Linked DNA regions of Homo sapiens. The protein of the gene in region 2 interacts with the protein of the main gene of each other region in a biochemical or structural test. Each region holds a gene or a part of one and is shown on either strand. Other genes may lie near its edges.

The links.
Region 1: of the proteins of CSN2 (region 2) and NEK9, one has a biochemical effect on the other in vitro, tested with the Homo sapiens proteins (one study listed by BioGRID).

Annotation. Positions count from the first base shown.
Region 1 is NC_000014.9:75,124,049-75,132,139, reverse strand, and holds the start of NEK9 (serine/threonine-protein kinase Nek9), read left to right. Parts: upstream 1-5,091; 5' UTR 5,092-5,218; coding exon 5,219-5,437; intron 5,438-7,916; coding exon 7,917-8,091.
Region 2 is NC_000004.12:69,953,836-69,964,590, forward strand, and holds the end of CSN2 (beta-casein isoform 1 precursor), read right to left. Parts: intron 7,173-10,755; 5' UTR 7,161-7,172; coding exon 7,110-7,160; intron 6,245-7,109; coding exon 6,218-6,244; intron 5,235-6,217; coding exon 5,214-5,234; intron 5,119-5,213; coding exon 5,074-5,118; intron 3,970-5,073; coding exon 3,439-3,969; intron 2,521-3,438; coding exon 2,515-2,520; 3' UTR 2,479-2,514; intron 1,758-2,478; 3' UTR 1,421-1,757; downstream 1-1,420. UniProt on the Homo sapiens protein: Important role in determination of the surface properties of the casein micelles.

The DNA.
Region 1 (8,091 bases), on a different chromosome or scaffold from region 2:
CTGGGATTACACGCGTGAGCCACCACACCCAGCCTCCATCTTTAAACTTTTAAATGTGAAATTTCTATCATGTACCGTTAGCCTAACAAGATTTTCTTTCCTATTTCTGACTGGTGCCTTTCCCCTTTTTAGGAGCAACGAAAGCTACTCTCTTAGTTATGTTCTTGTGATGTGACAAAATGTCAAGAAGATAGGAGAAGAGAATATTTTATTTCGTTGATGCTTTTGTTCCCAAGTGTGACCCTAAACTTAAGCTTTGTAGGAGTTGACATTCTTTCATGTCCCTTCCCTTTACTCATGCCGAAACTATCAACTGGGACATTTTGTGCTTTTGGTTTAAAAGTTAATTGATATTATACTTTGGTTTTATCTAAAAAGTAAATGTATTTGCCTTTGACAAAAGACTGACACAAGAGCAAATAAGCTTTAAAATCGGGTGTTATGTGCTTTCCTCCATTTTTGAGCATATTATCCAAAATGGTCTGTATAATATAAATGAGAATGATGCAGTTTAAGTAAGCCTTGTTATACCATTGTCATGGACCCCTGTCATAAAGCCATTTCTTGGTTTGTTTGGGAAAGAGGCATATGGGATTTATACAGATTCACTTGTAAATGTTGGATTGGGGATTTTTGTGTAAATTTTCTCAAATAAAGGCTAGCAGAAACCATTTTAGGTGTACTGTTACTCTTGAGTACTTCTATGTCTGGATTGGTGATAATTCTTCCATATTTCTCTTTTAAATTATGGCAAATTATACCTGATGAATTAGAGAAAAAATATTGTTATTCTTCAGTTACTGCAGATCGATAGTTTATATGAGCTAGTAAAAGATTATCATATTTTGTATGTAATATATGTAAATTATATATATATATATAATTAAGAATCCTTAATTATGCATCCTCAGACCAAATATGGTTCTGTAAGCTAGGCATTTTATTCTCTTTATCTTCTCTCTTTTGGAAACTGTTACTATTAGGTTCGCACAAAAGTAATTGTGGTTTTTGCAATTAAAATTGCAATTGCATAGAATCACTCCTACAGAGAGCCATCTCCCCTGCCTTTCATTCCTAAAAGACCCCCACCCCCCACCCCCGGTATATGAATCCTCAGGACTCACTTTTTAGGCCTATCATATCCAATGCAAAACCCCACTCCAGGAGGTAAACGTCTTTTCTCCTCTCCTTTCACTTACAGTTGAACATTTTTCACAAAGCGACTTTCCAAGAGCCAATATGAAGTGCTTTGCACACCCACTGGCTGGCCTCTTATTTATCCTCTTATCTCCATTCTCCCTCAAATAAATTTTATTATGAATCCATAGTGTGTAAAGTAGTGGTTCCCATTATTGGGGTATAATTTTTTTTTCTTTTCTTTTTTTTTTTTTTTGAGACGGAGTTCACTCTTGTTGCCCAGGCTGGAGTACAATGGCATGATCTCGGCTCACCACAACCTCCGCCTTCCGGGTTCAAGCAATTCTCCTGCCTCAGCCTCCCGAGTAGCTGGGATTACAGGCATGTACCAGCACGCCCAGCTAATTTTGTATTTTTAGTAGAGATGGAGTTTCATTATGTTGGCCAGGCTGGTCTTGAACTCCCAACCTCGTGATCCACCCACCTCAGCCTCCCAAAGTGCTGGGATTACAGGCGTGAGCCACCGTGCCCGGCCCAATACATGCTTTATAAATCATTTATTTAGTCTGCTGCAGTGGTGTCTCATAAAATGTTGAGCTGCATGTATAATTTTAAATTTTCTAGTATCACATTAAAGAAGTAAAAAACAGGTAAAATTTGCTGATTCTCCAGCCTCCCGAGTAGCTGGGATTACAGGCACATGCCACCACGCCCAGGTAATTTTTGTATTTTTAGTAGAGATGGGGTTTCACCATGTTGGCCAGGATGGTCTCGAACTCCTGACCTCGTGGTCTGCTCACCTTGGCCTCCCAAAGTGCTGGAATTATAGGCATCAGCCACTGTGCCCAGCCGAAAATTATTTTTAGTAGTGTATTTAACCTAATATACCCAAAATATTATTTCAACATATAGTTAATATAAAAATGGTTAATGAGATGTTTTGCATTCCATTTTTCATATAAAATCTTGAAAATCCAGTGTGCATTTCAAGCTATACCGCATCTATAGCTTAAAATTAGACTAGCCACAATTCAAGTGTTGAGTAGCTATATGTAGCTAATGGCTACCGTGGCAGACAGTGAAGGGTATAAACTTGGGTTGGTCTTTGGTAGATTCTTTCATCTTGACAGTAACTCTATGGCCCCTGGGAATTTGCCATTCACAAATTGGAAACTAATGCAAAATAGCATTCTAACCATTCACTTGTTAAAGTACAATGTGGAAATAGTTTGGTTTCAACCAAAGGCGCTTTAAAATTTTACACCTTGGCCAGGTGCAGTGGCTCACACCTGTAATCCCAACACTTTAGCAGGCCAATCACTTGAGGTCAGGAGTTCGAGAACCAGCCTGGCCAACATGGCAGAATGCCCTCTCTACTAAAAATACAAAAATTAGCTGGGCATGGTGGCGGACGCTTGTAATCCCAGCTACTCAGGAGACTGAGGCATGAGAATCACTTGAACTTGGGAGGTGGAGGCTGCAGTGTGCTGAGATCATGCCACTGCACTCCATCCTGAGTGACAGAGTGAGACTGTCTCCAAAAAAAAAAAAAAAGTTATACCATTAGAATAAATGTTGACTATTTTTGAACTTATAAATATTCAAAGGTAAGACAATTAGTTTCAGTTATATCCAATATAATGAAGAATTCAGCAGGAATGTCTCTGCTCTATAATAGGACATGTTTCTTCTAGGCTTGTAGTATCTATGCATTATCATTAGAACAATTCAGTTTCAGGCCAACCACGTTATAGAAAACTAGTTCCTCGTTGCAAAGGTGCCAGAAAAAAATGAATTTTTAAGCTTAGGCTGAAATCTATTCAGCCTCTTTGAAAGTCAGCATTCCCAATTTTAAGTAATTGGTTTTTTCCCATTCAACTGAGAAACAATTTATTGAGCATCTTTTCTGTTTAACAGAGTTAATCGAGAATAACAGAATTAAGTTAATAGAATTAACAGATTTAAGCCAAACTAAACTCTGGAGTTTATCTAGATAAACAAGAGGCAATACCTATCCTCAAAGTGCCTTCTAATTAATAGGAGGATGTAGATGGAATGGCCTCTACCTGAAATGATCTCTCTACTTTGTTTAGACTTAACATTTTGTATATTCCTGCACTCACACAGCAAGTTTGGCTTGGACAGATGCCACTCCTAAATGCCTCTCTAGAATCTTGCACTTTAATAGCCCTTATAGAAACTGTTTTAATTGCCTGGTGGTTTTCTGTTACATGTAAGCTCTCTTAAAGTAGGAACTTTTCACAAATCGATATGACACAATGTATTTTTATGTATTTGAGACAGGTTCTCACTCTGTTGCCCAGGCTCGAGTGCAGTGGCATGATCTTGGCTCACCGCAACCTCCGCCTCCCCAGTTCAAGCAATTCTTGTGCCTCAGCGTCCCAAGTAGCTGGGATTACAGGTGTGTGCACGCCTGGCTAATTTTTGTATTTTTAGTGGACACGGGGTTTCACCATGTTGGCCAGGCTGAACTCGAACTCCAGGCTTCAAGTGATCGGCCCTCCCAAAGTGCTGGGATTACAAGTGTGAGCCACCACGCCCGGCTAGGCACATGGCTTTCTCTTAGCCCCATCACATCCTGCTTTTTCAGATTGCTGGGTTCAACTTCCCAGCTCCCTCTTACTAGGTCTGTCACATTAAGCAGGTTACTTAGGTACCTCTGTTTCTGTAAAATGGGAATGTTAGGATAATACATAATACATAATACATAGGATAATACATAATAATGTGAGATAATACGTAAAAAACCTTTAGCATAGTACCCAGAACATAACACTCAATAAATGTTAGCTGTTATGTCTGTGATGTAGACCACATTCTCACAACAAAACAAGCTTGGAGATGAGAAGTTGCCCAAGGTCACATAATTGCCCAAGGTCACATAACTGATGGAACACCTATTGTTCACCGTATTGCTGTTTTCCTACTTGACGGTAGGGAGAACATTATTGCAGATTTCCTGTTCCCAAACAGTGTGTGGCACCAAGTGCTCAAAGAATGTTTCATGATATCATATGGTCAAATATCTGGAAAAACACATAGAATAAATTGAATCTGGAAAAAGAGACGGGGGAGAAGGAAAGTGTCAGGAGAGTTGACTTAAAATATTTTTGGAGTTGTGTAGAAGAGGGAGGGACTTAGGATGGCCCTGGGAGAAAGAACTCGGCCCAGGGACCGAGATGACCGGAGGCAGACATTTAGGCTGTCTATATTATTATTATTTTTTTTTTTTTTGAGACAAAGTCTCGCTCTGTTATCCAGGCTGGAGTGTAGTGCGCGATCTCGGCTCGCTGCAACCTCCTCCTTCCGGGTTCAAGTGATTCACCTGCCTCAGCCTCTGGAGTAGCTGGGATTACAGGTGCCTGCCACCACGCCTGGCTAATTTTTGTATTTTATAGAGACGGGGTTTCACCAGTTGGTCAGGCTGGTCTCAAACGCCTGACCTCAGGTGATCCGCCCGCCTCGGCTTCCTAACATGCTGAGATTACAGGCGTGAGCCACCTTGCCCGGCCATATTATCTTTACTATACTATCTCTCTAAAAAAGAATGCTGTCCAACGTTGGAATGGGGAAGAAGGTGTACACTGGGAATGCTTCCCCAATCACCCTCTTGTCACAGACCTGACGTCAAGATGAGACTGGACGACCTCTGGGCCTCCAAGTTGTATGAGTCCGGACCGGGGAGGCAGAGAAGGGTCAATAGACCCGAGAGGCCGTACCGTCAGTGATGCCCTTGTTCCCGTGGGAGCCCTTCGGTTCCACGCGGTTCCCACCACGCGCCCGCCAACCCTAGCCCGAGGCCTCACTTTGCAGGCCTTCCCCGAAAGCGGGAAGCCTTGGCCGCTAGACTAGCCAAGAGGGTAAGCAAAGGCGGAGGAAACTCAGCCAGGCCGGAAACACAGAGAACTGTTTCCGGGTCGGGGGGCAGGAGCCACCATCGAGCTTCGCGGGGTTGCTGGGCTGACGGATCCGCGGGCCGGCATCTGAAGCGAGCGGGACGCAGCGCGGCCAGGGCCTCCGGGCATACGCAGGCTGGTCCCCAAGGCCCGCGGCCGCCGCCATGTCGGTGCTGGGCGAGTACGAGCGACACTGCGATTCCATCAACTCGGACTTTGGGAGCGAGTCCGGGGGTTGCGGGGACTCGAGTCCGGGGCCTAGCGCCAGTCAGGGGCCGCGAGCCGGCGGCGGCGCGGCGGAGCAGGAGGAACTGCACTACATCCCCATCCGCGTCCTGGGCCGCGGCGCCTTCGGGGAAGCCACGCTGTACCGCCGCACCGAGGTAGCGGCCCTCGGCGCCGGCCGCCCTGTCTGGCGCTGTCGGGTCGCCCCGAGTCCCTCCTTCTCGGCCCCGCTTTCCCAGCGTCGTGAGCTTAGTGCTTTAGGCGCCCACGGGGTATATGTCTTAGGGTCTTCACCACTCTTCCCACTCACCGGCACTAGAAATTGGCTAGATCATTGGTTTGACTAGTCATTTTTGATTGTCCTAAGTCACCTAACCGTCTCTTGAGCTTTAGTTTCCCCATCTGTAAAATGGGCTTACTGATAATACCTTGAAATCATCTTTTTCTTTTTTTTTTAAGATTATCTTGAGAATCAAACGAAGGCTCTGTTCTGTAAATTAAAGTGGTATACGAATGTGAGGTATTGCCAAAACTTCCTTCCTCTCATGCTGTATATATAGTTCTCCAAGGTCGGGGTGAGGAGGAGGGGCATAGCTTCAAAATCCCCACACCCGTGGCAACTCCGTTATTTTTGTCATTATCTTTAAGTTCAGCAGTGATCACTCAGTTGGAAGCTTTTCTTGAAGCTCATTGGGAAGATCTTTGTGTGTTGGTTCTTTATCAGTGTTTATCTTGCAGGGTTTATGCATGGGAAATACTTTGTTGGTATATTCTAAGCCATTAGTTCTTAATTTGGGGGGCACAAGGACCCCTTTGATAACCTAAGCAAAGTAATCTTGCCCCCTCCATCAACACATTTGCACATATGCACATCCTTTGGAGAGATCCATGGATCACGGAATCCCAAGTTAATATATACTAGTGTAAAACCCTGCAGTGATTATTCTACTTCCAAAAACTAACGATACACTAGATTTGATCATAAAATCTTACTTTAGGGTAAACATTTAATGAGAACTTGCTGGGGTTGCTGAAGGTGATTCATCCGTCGGAAATCCATCTGCAGTTCTGGTGTGTGTTCCAAGCCAGCATACTTTTAAGGCTGAAAGATGGAGAAGGAGAGAAGTGGTTGCAAGAGAATATTTTTAAGTGTTCTTTTTTATCCTGATGCCACGTTAATGTATGATGTTAGAGTTAGTTATTCTTAGTAGTCTGTTTTCTTTTTTGCACTCAAAATGAGAAAGAGGAGATAAGGATTGTTATTTCTATATTTTAGTTAGAGAAACTAAAACAGTATACTTAAGTGACTTGCTCACTTAAGTTACAAGTAAATCTTGGACTAGAACTAAAGTCTCACATCTTGCCCATTGCCTTTTTATTATTATCCTGTTGAACTTGATTACTGGGTTGGTTTTGAGTTAAATTTGATTACACTTCCCAAAAATTGCATAGCGTTGTCCATATCACCAAATATTTATTAGATCTGTGAATTTACAAAAGTTCAGAAGCACTCTTTTTCTCTAGAAGCTTATATTTCAGTAGGAAAATAAGTTGACCATTGTTAGTAAACAAATAGCATTAAGTTGCATATGTAGAGATATGAAAAGAATGAACAAATATCATTTCAGTGTATGGGGTCTAAAAATTAAAGACATGGTTACAGTAAAAGCTTCATCAGAGTCTTTTCAAAAACACTGTAAAGGCTTGGCAGAGGCATTCAAAAGGATGGGGAGGGTTACATAGGTGGAGATGCTCCTGGGCTAGGAAGCAGGGTCAGCAAAGAATGAGGCGAGGCACAGTGGCTCATGCCTATAATCCCAACACCTGGGAGGCCAAGGTGGTCGGGTCGCTTGAGGCCAGGAGTTCTAGACCAGCCTGGGCAACACAGTGATACCCCATCTCTTAAAAAAAAAAAAAAAAAATTTAGCTGAGTGTGGCAGTGCGTGCCTGTAGTCCCAACTACTGGGGAAGCTGAGGTGGGAGGATTGCTTCAGCCCAGGAGTTCAAAGCTGAAATGAGCTATGACTGCACTCTAGTTTGGGCAACAGAGTGAGACCCTATCTCTTAAAAAAAAAAAAAAAAAAAGATAGTAGACATCAGGAGCTACAGGATACATAAAAGTATGAGAGGAGATTATAGAGTTGCAAAAGGGGTCATGACTTCTCTTATCCAGAAAGGGTAGGTGAAAATCACTAGGGAAGTCTAAATTTATAAAACTAGAGGCAAGTTTAGTATTTTCATTTTAGAAGCTGGGACCAGCTATAGATAATTGCTCCCCAGTTCTCTGCTTCTCCAGTATTCTTGCCCTGCCATAATCACCATCATGATTAGCAGTCTGTCATAGTATCCTCAATAGAATCTTTTTGAGATCTATCCCCAGCCCATATTTTTACCTGGAACTGACATCATGCAAATTAAGTATGACAACAACGTTTTAATGCTTTACTTCCCCTGTCCTGCAATAAATTATAATGCTAAATTGTACACATAACCTTTAAAGTCTGTTAAAAGGAAAAAATAAGAGGAGTCAGTCTGTGCCCCTCTAGGAAGTTTTCCTTCTAGGCTTACAGATCTAGGTGTGGATTCATTTGCTGCCAGGCAAGAGGAAAAGCACGATACCTCTGTTACTGTGTTTAGGATGACTCACTGGTTGTGTGGAAGGAAGTCGATTTGACCCGGCTGTCTGAGAAGGAACGTCGTGATGCCTTGAATGAGATTGTTATTCTGGCACTGCTGCAGCACGACAACATTATTGCCTACTACAATCACTTCATGGACAATACCACGCTGCTGATTGAGCTGGAATATTGTA
Region 2 (10,755 bases):
CTGGATTCAGATTAAGAGCTATGCTAGGCCATGCCAGGTATGATATTTTAATTAGATACTTAAATACGGAGATCAAGAAGGCAGTTGAGTACATAAGTTTTGAGTTCACAAAAGAAATAAGTCTGGAGATAGAGATTTGGAAGTCGTTAGCATAAGAATGTACTTAAAGCCAGGGAAGTGAACAGGATCAGCCAGGGTAAGGCTAATCTCTAGGGCACTCCAACCCTTAAGGATTTGGAAAAGGAGAAAATACAAGAAGGGAGACTGAGAAGTGTTTAGAGTATTAAAGAAGAAACCAAGGGTTTATTAGGTTAAGGATTTCAAATGAAAAGAAGAATGATGTTTCAAAGAAGTAAAGACGACACATTCTACCAAATAACACTGAGAGGTTGGGTAAAATGAACACAAATTAGCAATATGAAAATTATTGGTAACCTTGAAAAGAAGTGGTTTCAGTGAGGGATGAAATTTTGATTGGAGTGGGTTAATAACAGAATAAGATATGAGATATGGAAACAACCCTATGGTTACTTTAGTATGACAATTGATATAATCTAAATAATTGGGAGAGGTTTGGAGGTACAGTGTTAAGGAAGCAGATTTTTTCTTTAATGATGGGAGATATTATAGTATAAGCAGGTCTTCCATGATGCTTATGTTGTAATAAGGGCCAGGGAAACACTGGAAATATAAGAAAGATGGGATAATTGCTAGACATGAGTCACTGCATAAACTCAGGAAGATATAATTGAATGTACAAGTGGAGGAGTTGGTATAGAAAGAGAGAAAATCAATCACAATAAACAACTACTTCACAGTTAGAATTAATGGCTGTCAGAGTTTCACATCCCTTACTTTCTTCAGCGTTGCTGGCTAACACCACATTACCCAGTTCATTTTGATTTGTTAGAATGCTTTGGTGCTGTGGTATAAGCAATGTCAGCAATGTGGAGCAATAGGGATCATCTATCATTTACTATACAGTACACTCATCATGTTACTAATATGTAATCAAATCTTCAGTAAAATTCTTTGCACTATTTTATCCATGTGGCAATTAAAGCTCTTACAACATCACATAGCTACCTGTGGCAAGTTGTGTTTCAGGTTTCACATTTAAAGTTTTTTTCCCAGGGTCACCACAAAATTTAACATCCAATGCTGGATCATTTTGAAAGTGAAAGGCATAGCTATAATAATGACACTGGGAAAATAGGCATAACCCAAAACTTTCTATAGCAAATGGAGTATAAAAGCATCCTTTCTTTTCCTCCACTTTTTGATATCTTTTAATATTCAATTCAAAACATTCTATTCAATTTCAAAGCATTCTTCCAGGATTATTTTGAACATCAATAATAAATCAAAGTTAACATTAAAGAGGCCGATTAGGTTTGAAAAAAAGACAGAAGAACTGAAATATGCTTAAGAATAATTTATTGAAATGACTGGAAAGGAAATAGATTCTTAAAGAAATAAAAATAAGCACAATTCCAGAAACAATTTGTATACATATGTTTGATATGTTTGTAGCATTTCCAAATGAGTATTGAACTTCTGTGGTACTAGTTGAATTAAGATTTGGAAAATGTAAATAGTTCATGAGTCAAATTTCAAATTAAATGAATGACATAATATATAAAATAAATAAAGGGACAAAGTTCATTTTTTCCATATAAACTCATTCAAACATACTTAATTTGGGGTAACGTGATACAAAGACGGAAAAGGCATCATATTTCCAGTCTCAGTCAATTCTGTGGAATAGAGAGCAAATATATAATTAGTTATGTTATAACACGTAACTATTCAACTCTCTTCACTTTTAACTTTGGTGTGACTAATTCACAAAAGAAATTGTATTGCAAATGCATTCTGTTGCGGTTTGGAGGCATGTAAAGTTTGTTCACCAAACTTCACCAAAGTTCATCAAATATTAGTGAACTTGAAATTGTTTCAGTGAAATGTCTGGTATTTCATAATCCCAAAAGGCTTTATATCTTAGAATTGCAATGCTGTTCTCTCCTCTTTTTAACCTTTACACTTGGAGTAATTTTAACTCATGAATTAAAAGATAATTTTAAGTAAAGTAAATACAAATTTTATGAAGGCTAGGTTAGAAATAAAAATGCAAATAGGCTTTTGACAAAAGCTCAAATGTATTTCCATAAAAGTAAAATAAGTATATATTCTGTCTTTCCTAAAAATAGTGATAATCAAATGTAAGTATATAGGCCCTTGAAAGCAAGCCAGTCAAATCTGTCAATAGTACATAAATAAAATTAAAGTTATTTGAAATGCAAAAGATAGATAGTTTCAGGTCAGTAAATGATAGTCAACCATTAAATTGATAATTAATAAAAAAAGTTCTTGTATGTATGAAATTTTCACTGTATTGGACTTCTCTAGGAGAATTAAATGTAAAAAGACATCATGTATAAAAATGATCAATTAAATCTCCAAACTCCCAAAACTTACCAAAAATAAGGAGGGAAAATTAACTTTGAAATCTTCTTAGACCTTAAAAATAAACAGATACAAATAAATAAATAACCTCTTAGTAAGAAAACTTGCCTTAAGAATGTTGTAAGTAGTGAAATAAGCATCTCCGTCTTTTGCCTTCATATATATTTACAGCAAAAACCAGATGTGAAGTAAGGCTTGTGTAAAATAAATAAATAAATAAATAAATAAATAACCTCTTAGTAAGAAAACTTGCCTTAAGAATGTTGTAAGTAGTGAAATAAGCATCTCAGTCTTTTGCCTTCATATATACTTATAGCAAAAACAAGATGTGAAGTAAGGCTTGTGTAAAAGAGATGTGCACAAGGAAAATGACAGAACATTTTTTAGCTTTTTTTTCCAAATTCAATCATATTATTAAATTTAATTCCGGCTTTTGTAAGCCTTAATTACTTTATCTAAATCAGAATTCTCAACAGACTAATTAAACCAGAATTCATGCAATAGTTTTTTTCTCAACACTCAGTTTCCTCTACACAAAAAACTAGAACAATTATATCAGAATCTCTGGGTAAGCTTAGGCATTGGGATTTGTGGGGAAAAGTTCTCCAGGTGATTCTATTGTATAGGTAAGCATTAAGAATCACTTATCTATGAGAACACATGGACACAGGAAGGGGAACATCACACACCTGGACCTGTCGTGGGGTGGGGGTAGGGGGTAGGGATAGCATTAGGAGATATACCTAATGTTAAATGACGAGTTAATGGGTGCAGCACACCAACATGGCACATGTATACATATGTAACTAACCTGCATGTTGTGCACATGTACCCTAAAACTTAAAGTATAATAATAAAAGAATCACTTATCTAAACTGTTTTTTTAATTCATTTACTCTACATTTATTCTTTTATTCTACCATCACATACACATCTTGAATGAAACAGCAAAGCCAGTAAATTTGGACTTACACTAATGGGGTTATGAACTGGGGCAAGTGGCTGAGTCACAGGGTAGATCTGGTGGGTGGGGTTAAGTAGAAGTTCTTGGTTGAGCAGAAGGGCTTGAACAGGCACAGCTCTCTGAGGGTAGGGCACCACTTGCTGGGGGATAGGCAGGACTTTGGGCTGAGGAACAGACCACAGGGGCTGAGGGGGAAGTGCAAGAGTCTGAGGAATAGGCTGAGGGACCTGCTGCATCAAGGGCTGGAGCAGAGGCAGAGGAAGATGCAGATTTTCAAGATCAGTGAGTTTTGGGATTTGAGGGTCAAAAAAGGGTATCGTTGGAGATTTAAGGACAGGCATCACTCTGCCCTTAGTGTAGACAGTGTCTTTAGCTTTAGGGACTTCCATTATTTCAGGCTGAGGGACAGGCAGCACCACAGCAGGCTGAGCAAGAGGCAGAATGTTTTGTGGAAGAAAACCATAGGGGATAGGTTCAACGAATGGATAGATCAGAGGCTGTGGCTGGAAAGAGGGGTAGATTTTATCCTGGTGTTCATCCTGGAAAGAAGGAAAAAGAATCTTTGAGTCCTTGATTAAGCTATAATTGCCATTCATAATGAATTCATTTCTCTCTTTTAGACAATGATAAATGAGTAAAAAGAGAGGAGAAAATATTTCACTTATTTTGGTTAAGAAAGTATCTTGAGTCATGCGAAGAAAAATGAGTAAACTGTTTGTTGAAAAATTTTAATCCACTCACTTCATGGGTAACTCCACAGGCCAAAGTGAAATCAATGTTTGGATATTTCAGAAACACTTTTTTTAACATTTTCCTGAATTGCCTGGATAGCTGTAGCTGTACACTTTGGTCTTCAGAGAGAATTTACTTTTCAACACAGTTGTGCCAATAGTAGACCAAATTGTTTTCATACAGTGAAAAGAGATCAGTTTAAAAAGACTTAGAGGGACAATTCCAAGGTTTATTTTTGTTTTGTTTTGGTTTGATGAAAAAGAAAATCAGTCTTAATTTGTGGCTAATCTCAGGAAGTAATTTAACACCGGCCAAATTCTTACATTCCTTCCCTTGGGAGAAGATAGTCTCTTGAGTCTTTCAAGAGACATCAATTTTTTTGTTTAAATTTGATTTTAGAAATATTTTATGTGACTCCAAACAATTCATTGGTACACAAAGCAATTGAAAATTATAATTGGGTAAACATATCACCATAAATGTAATTTAATGAAATACAGGATTTTGTGTTGTCCATATGGGAATAAAGGCAATATGGGACAAATTTTACATAGGTTTTTTTACCAGCCGTATACACCTTTTCATTACCATATCCACCTTGGAAATAAGAGGATCATAGTTCCCAACCTGGAAATGTTCCCACCAATGTGTACTTGTTGAAAACAGATATACCATTAGTAATATCATTATGTATTTAGTCTGTATTCTAGAAATTAATTATGAGTTTAAAAATGCATGCATATCCTAGAAAATATATTGACTTTATCAATGTTTAATTTTTAAAGTGGTTGGTGGGTATATGGCATTTATTTTATTATCATTCTTTAGAATCAACATACACATTATAAATATTTTTGTATGTATTATACTTTATAATAATTTTAAACATATACTTATCATTAACAAATTACCTCTCCTTGCTGCTGGTCCTCATGTTTAACCTTCTCAACTTTCTGCTAAAGATATATCATATATAAAGATATGTTACCATCTGTAAAGATTAAAAGGAGGAAATTTTGAAAATGTGTACATTTTAAATGTGAAAATTTACCTTGTATTCTGTAATAGATTCCTACAGAAAAATATAAAATAAAATTAGGTTTAGTTTTAACAATTCTTACTTTGCAATATAAATCAGGAAATAAAGGCATTAATTCTTTGATAATATCATTAATAACTTTGTATAATCATTAAACTTATGTATTAAACTGTTCTATATGAGCTTGTTATGTAAAAGAAAGTCAGATGAATGCAGTCAAGAAGGACATGGTACAAAAAAAAGCAATTAATAGATGCTAATTTCTCTCTACCACCATGCTCATTCCCTGACAACAAATGATATCTAAAACCCCATCTGATTTTTAAAAAAAGAAATACTCATTGAAAATATATTCTAATAACAATTGATACATTATGATCACTTCAAATGAATCATAAGAGTTAAACACTTCCCTTAAGGATCATATAACCTTTCTGAAGAGACAGAATCTATTGATGTACCATTTACTTATCAAGTGATCACACACCCAAGAAGAGTGGTGTAAGAATAAATATCTACCTGACTCTCTCAGGTAAATTTAGGACTACACTAAATCTCGCTTATTTACTAAAGTGGCTATTGTAATTATAAAATGTGTCCTTTTTGCACGTCTGCCTACCTACTACTTAGCAAGCTCTTAACTATCACTGGCATCTCTAACTTTTCAGTTTGTACCACAGCTCCTAGTCAATGTCTGACCCATAGAAGGCCGTCAGTATATGCTTAAGGTGAATAAGTTCAGAGTAAAGAGAGTTCAAGGCAGAAAACAGGACAATATGGTTCATTAAAAAAAAAAGAAGCAAAATAACACAATTTCAAGTAGCAAGCCAATTTACAAAGTTCTAGAATGTTGTATTATCCAGATACTTATTGTCCTTAAACACACATAAAAGAAATATGTACTAGAACTTATATGTCATTAACATAGCTGCATTAGCTTAACTGCCATGATGTAACACCATAGAAAAATAGCACAGGATTTTACTGTTCTAAAATTGGGTAGAATGTTAACTTACCTCACTGCTTGAAAGGCTTTCTATGGTCTGTGGGAAAAAAAAATTGACAACCAGCTAAATCTTCTAGATCATTAGAGAATTTTACTATTTTATGGTTCATAAATTTTCTCTAAAAAAATAATCTCACCTCAGAGGATGCATTGGATTGTTCCTTCTGAAAAGATGTTTAAAAATTCAACTTCTATAGCTAACTCATTGTTAAACATGCATCCTACTTAATTTTTACATCACTTATGCAGAGCTATCTCTTTCACAAATTTGAGAAATAAAAAATGTTATATGACTTTTGAGGTTTAAAAGGTAATTACTTTAATGTCTTTTATATTTAGTAATCTATTAATATATTTTTATCTTACATTTATTAAAGACAGAGTTTTTTATGGGTAAAAGAAGAGTCACTTTAATTTGTATTAAATATTTTTATTATATTATTATTAATATATTTATGATCATGATTATGATTGTCTCTGTACTTCATCCCATGGATGTCTTTGTACAGACAGACACAGGATTTGACCCAGTGCCCTAGGCTGTAAGGTATATATACATTTTATCACTGGAATAAGATATATTTATCTAGCTTGAGAATCTTTGGAGTTGTATTTATGCAATATTATATTTCGTTGCCATTTTTATGATTTTTTATTACTTATTGATTTGTTTGCTTTTTCTTTAGTGACTAGCAGCACATTGGTGCAGGAAGCATTTGGGGCACTATAGGAAACTGTTGAGACAGTGGGTAAATATAAATGATTTTGATAGAAGCCAAGAGAATTCTCATGAAATTCTTCATTATTTATACAGTAAAAAATGTTGGTGATGTTATTCTCTACAAATAAGCATATAGTCCACTATTTATTGATTGTTTAGGAATTTTTTCTTGTGCACATACCTCCCTTGCAAGAGCAAGAGCCACCAGGCAGGCGAGGATGAGGACCTTCATGGCTACTAAGTCCTGTGAATGTAGAAAAAATGGAATGGTGGAAGATTGGTCAATTGGATATACTTTCTTATGTAGGTAAGGTTACTTTTTATAAAACAAAAAAAAAAGAGAGATAATATATAACAAAAATATCTGCATTTAGAAAATAAATAGAATAAATACTAAATAGAAGTTATATCACATGAAGGAGGTCAAAATCCATTCTGGCTTGCGATTCTCATTTTTCAAATTCCAAACTTCATTGCCAGCTATTCAGATTTTTCAGCTAACAACTCTATCCCCACTTTTAAAAAAGTCCCATTTACAGTATTGAATTTTTCAAAAGGCATAAAGAAGTTATAAATATGTATGGAAAGATTTATGCAACACATCAAAAAGCTTATCCACCATGATCAAGTGGGCTTCATCCCTGGGATGCAAGGCTGGTTCAACATACGAAAATCAATAAATGTAATCCAGCATATAAACAAAACCAAAGACAAAAACCACATGATTATCTCAATAGATGCAGAAAAGGCCTTTGACAAAATTCAACAACACTTCATGCTAAAAACTCTCAATAATTTAGGTATTGATGGGACATATCTCAAAATAATAAGAGCTATCTATGACAAACCCACTGCCAATATCATACTGAATGGACAAAAACTGGAAGCATTCCCGTTAAAAATTGGCACAAGACAGGGATGCCCTCTCTCACCACTCCTATTCAACATAGTGTTGGAAGTTCTGGCCAGGGCAATTAGGCAGGAGAAGGAAATAAAGGTCATTCAATTAGGAAAAGAGGAAGTCAAATTGTCCCTGTTTGCAGATGACATGACTGTGTATCTAGAAAACCCCATCGTCTCAGCCCAAAGTCTCCTTAAGCTGATAAGCAACTTCAGCAAAGTCTCAGGATACAAAATCAATGTGCAAAAATCACAAGCATTCATATACACCAATAACAGACAAACAGAGAGCCAAATCATGAGTGAACTCCCATTCAAAATTGCTTCAAAGAGAATAAAATCCCTAGGAATCCAACTTACAAGGGATGAGAAGGACCTCTCCAAGGAGAACTACAAACCACTGCTCAAGGAAATAAAAGAGGATACAAACAAATGGAAGAACATTCCATGCTCATGGGTAGGAAGAATCAATATCATGAAAATGGCCATACTGCCCAAGGTAATTTATAGATTCAATGCCATCCCCATTAAGCTACCAATGACTTTCTTCACAGAATTGAAAAAAACTACTTTAAAGTTCATATGGAACCAAAAAAGAGGCCACATTGCCAAGTAAATCCTAAGCCAAAAGAACAAAGCTGGAGGCATCATGCTACCTGACTTCAAACTATACTACAAGGCTACAGTAACCAAAACAGCATGGTACTTGGTACCAAAACTGATACCAAGACCAATGGAACAGGAAAGAGCCCTCAGAAATAATGCCGCATGTCTACAACTATCTGATCTTTGACAAAGCTGACAAAAACAAGCAATGGGGAAAGGATTCCCTATTTAATAAATGGTGCTGGGAAAACTGGCTAGCCATATGTAGAAAGCTGAAACCGGGTCCCTTCCTTACACCTTATACAAAAATTAATTCAAGGTGGATTAAAGACTTACATGTCAGACCTAAAACCATAAAAACCCTAGAAGAAAACCTAGGCAATACCATTCAGGACATAGGCATGGGCAAGGACTTCATGTGTAAAAGACCAAAAGCAATGGCAACAAAAGCCAAAATTGACAAATGGGATCTAATTAAACTAAAGAACTTCTGCACAGCAAAAGAAACTACCATCAGAGTGAACAGGCAACCTGCAGAATGAGAGAAAATTTTTGCAATCTACTCATCTGACAAAGGGCTAATATCCAGAATCTACAATGAACTCCAACAAATTTACAAGAAAAAAACAAACAACCCCATCAAAAAGTGGGCAAAGGATATGAACAAACACTTCTCAAAAGAAGACATTTATACAGCCAAAAATCACATGAAAAAATGCTCATCATCACTGGCCATCAGAGAAATGCAAATCAAAACCACAATGAGATACCATCTCACACCAGTTAGAATGGCGATCATTAAAAAGTCAGGAAACAACAGGTGCTGGAGAGGATGTGGAGAAATAGGAACACTTTTACACTGTTGGTGGGACTGTAAACTAGTTCAACCATTGTGGAAGTCAGTGTGGCGATTCCTCAGGGATCTAGAGCTAGGAATACCATTTGACCTAGCCATCCCATTACTGGGTATATACCCAAAGGATTATAAATCATGCTGCTATAAAGACACATACACATGTATGTTTATTGCGGCACTATTCACAATAGCAAAGACTTGGAACCAACCCAAATGTCCAACAATGATAGACTGGATTAAGAAAATGTGGCACATATACACCATGGAATACTATGCAGCCATAAAAAATGATGAGTTCATGTCCTTTGTAGGGACATGGATGAAGCTGGAAACCATCATTCTCAGCAAACTATCGCAAGGACAAAAAAACCAAACACCACATGTTCTCACTCATAGGTGGGAATTGAACAATGGGAACACACGGACACAGGAAGGGGAACATCACACACCGGGGCTGTTGTGGGGTGGGGGGAGTGGGGAGGGATAGCATTAGGAGATATACCTAATGTTAAATGACGTGTTAATGGGTGCAGCACACCAACATGGCACATGTATACATATGTAACAAACCTGCACTTTGTGCACATGTACCCTAAAACTTAAAGTATAATAATAATAATTTCAAAAGACAAATAAAATTTAAAAAAAGATTTATTCATTAACTTAAAAATATTTCTTTAGAATCTGTTCTTGCCAGACACTGTCTAGGGACCAGGACCGCAGCAATGAACAAAATATTACAGTCCTGATATTACTCCCTCATGGAGCCTCAGTTCTACTGGAAGAGACTGATCAAGAAAATGTGTACAAAAAAGTCACATTTTATTTTTACCTTTTTTCTTTTCACTAAACGGTTACCATGACTATTTTAGTTTATTTCTCCTCATTTCCAATAAGACTGAGGTTTTCATTTTAACACTTTCCTTATTTGTGTCACTATCCAGAGACTTTATTGGACTATTGAGTTTGTTTCTTCTCCGTTTATATTCATCTTCCCCACATAGCTAATAATGTCTGTTCTCCTTTATGCCACATGACTTTAGATATTGTACACTAGGCTTCTTCTCTTCTCTTTATTGAAATGTACACACGATTCTCTTGATGATCCGCCAAGGGGTCAGAGCCTCTTGCCCACTGCTAAGCTTGGGACTACCTCTTCTTGTGAAATATATGTTAATATTTTTGACCAAAATATACTAAATCATCTCCTTGTTATGTGTTCTTACATTTTTTTGTAATTTATTTCAAAATAATGTTTGTGCCACAATATTACTCACCACTCAAATCTTCATTCTCAGATATTGAAACTCAATTTTTGAACTAAATTTTTGAACTAAAATACTTCATCAAAAAAGTCTTTAATTTATTTGAGAGATGTTCTTTTCAATATTTGAAGGTTGAACATAATTCTATTACAGAAAACAAATATTTTTTCTAGATTTTTTATGAATGTTAATTAAGTTTT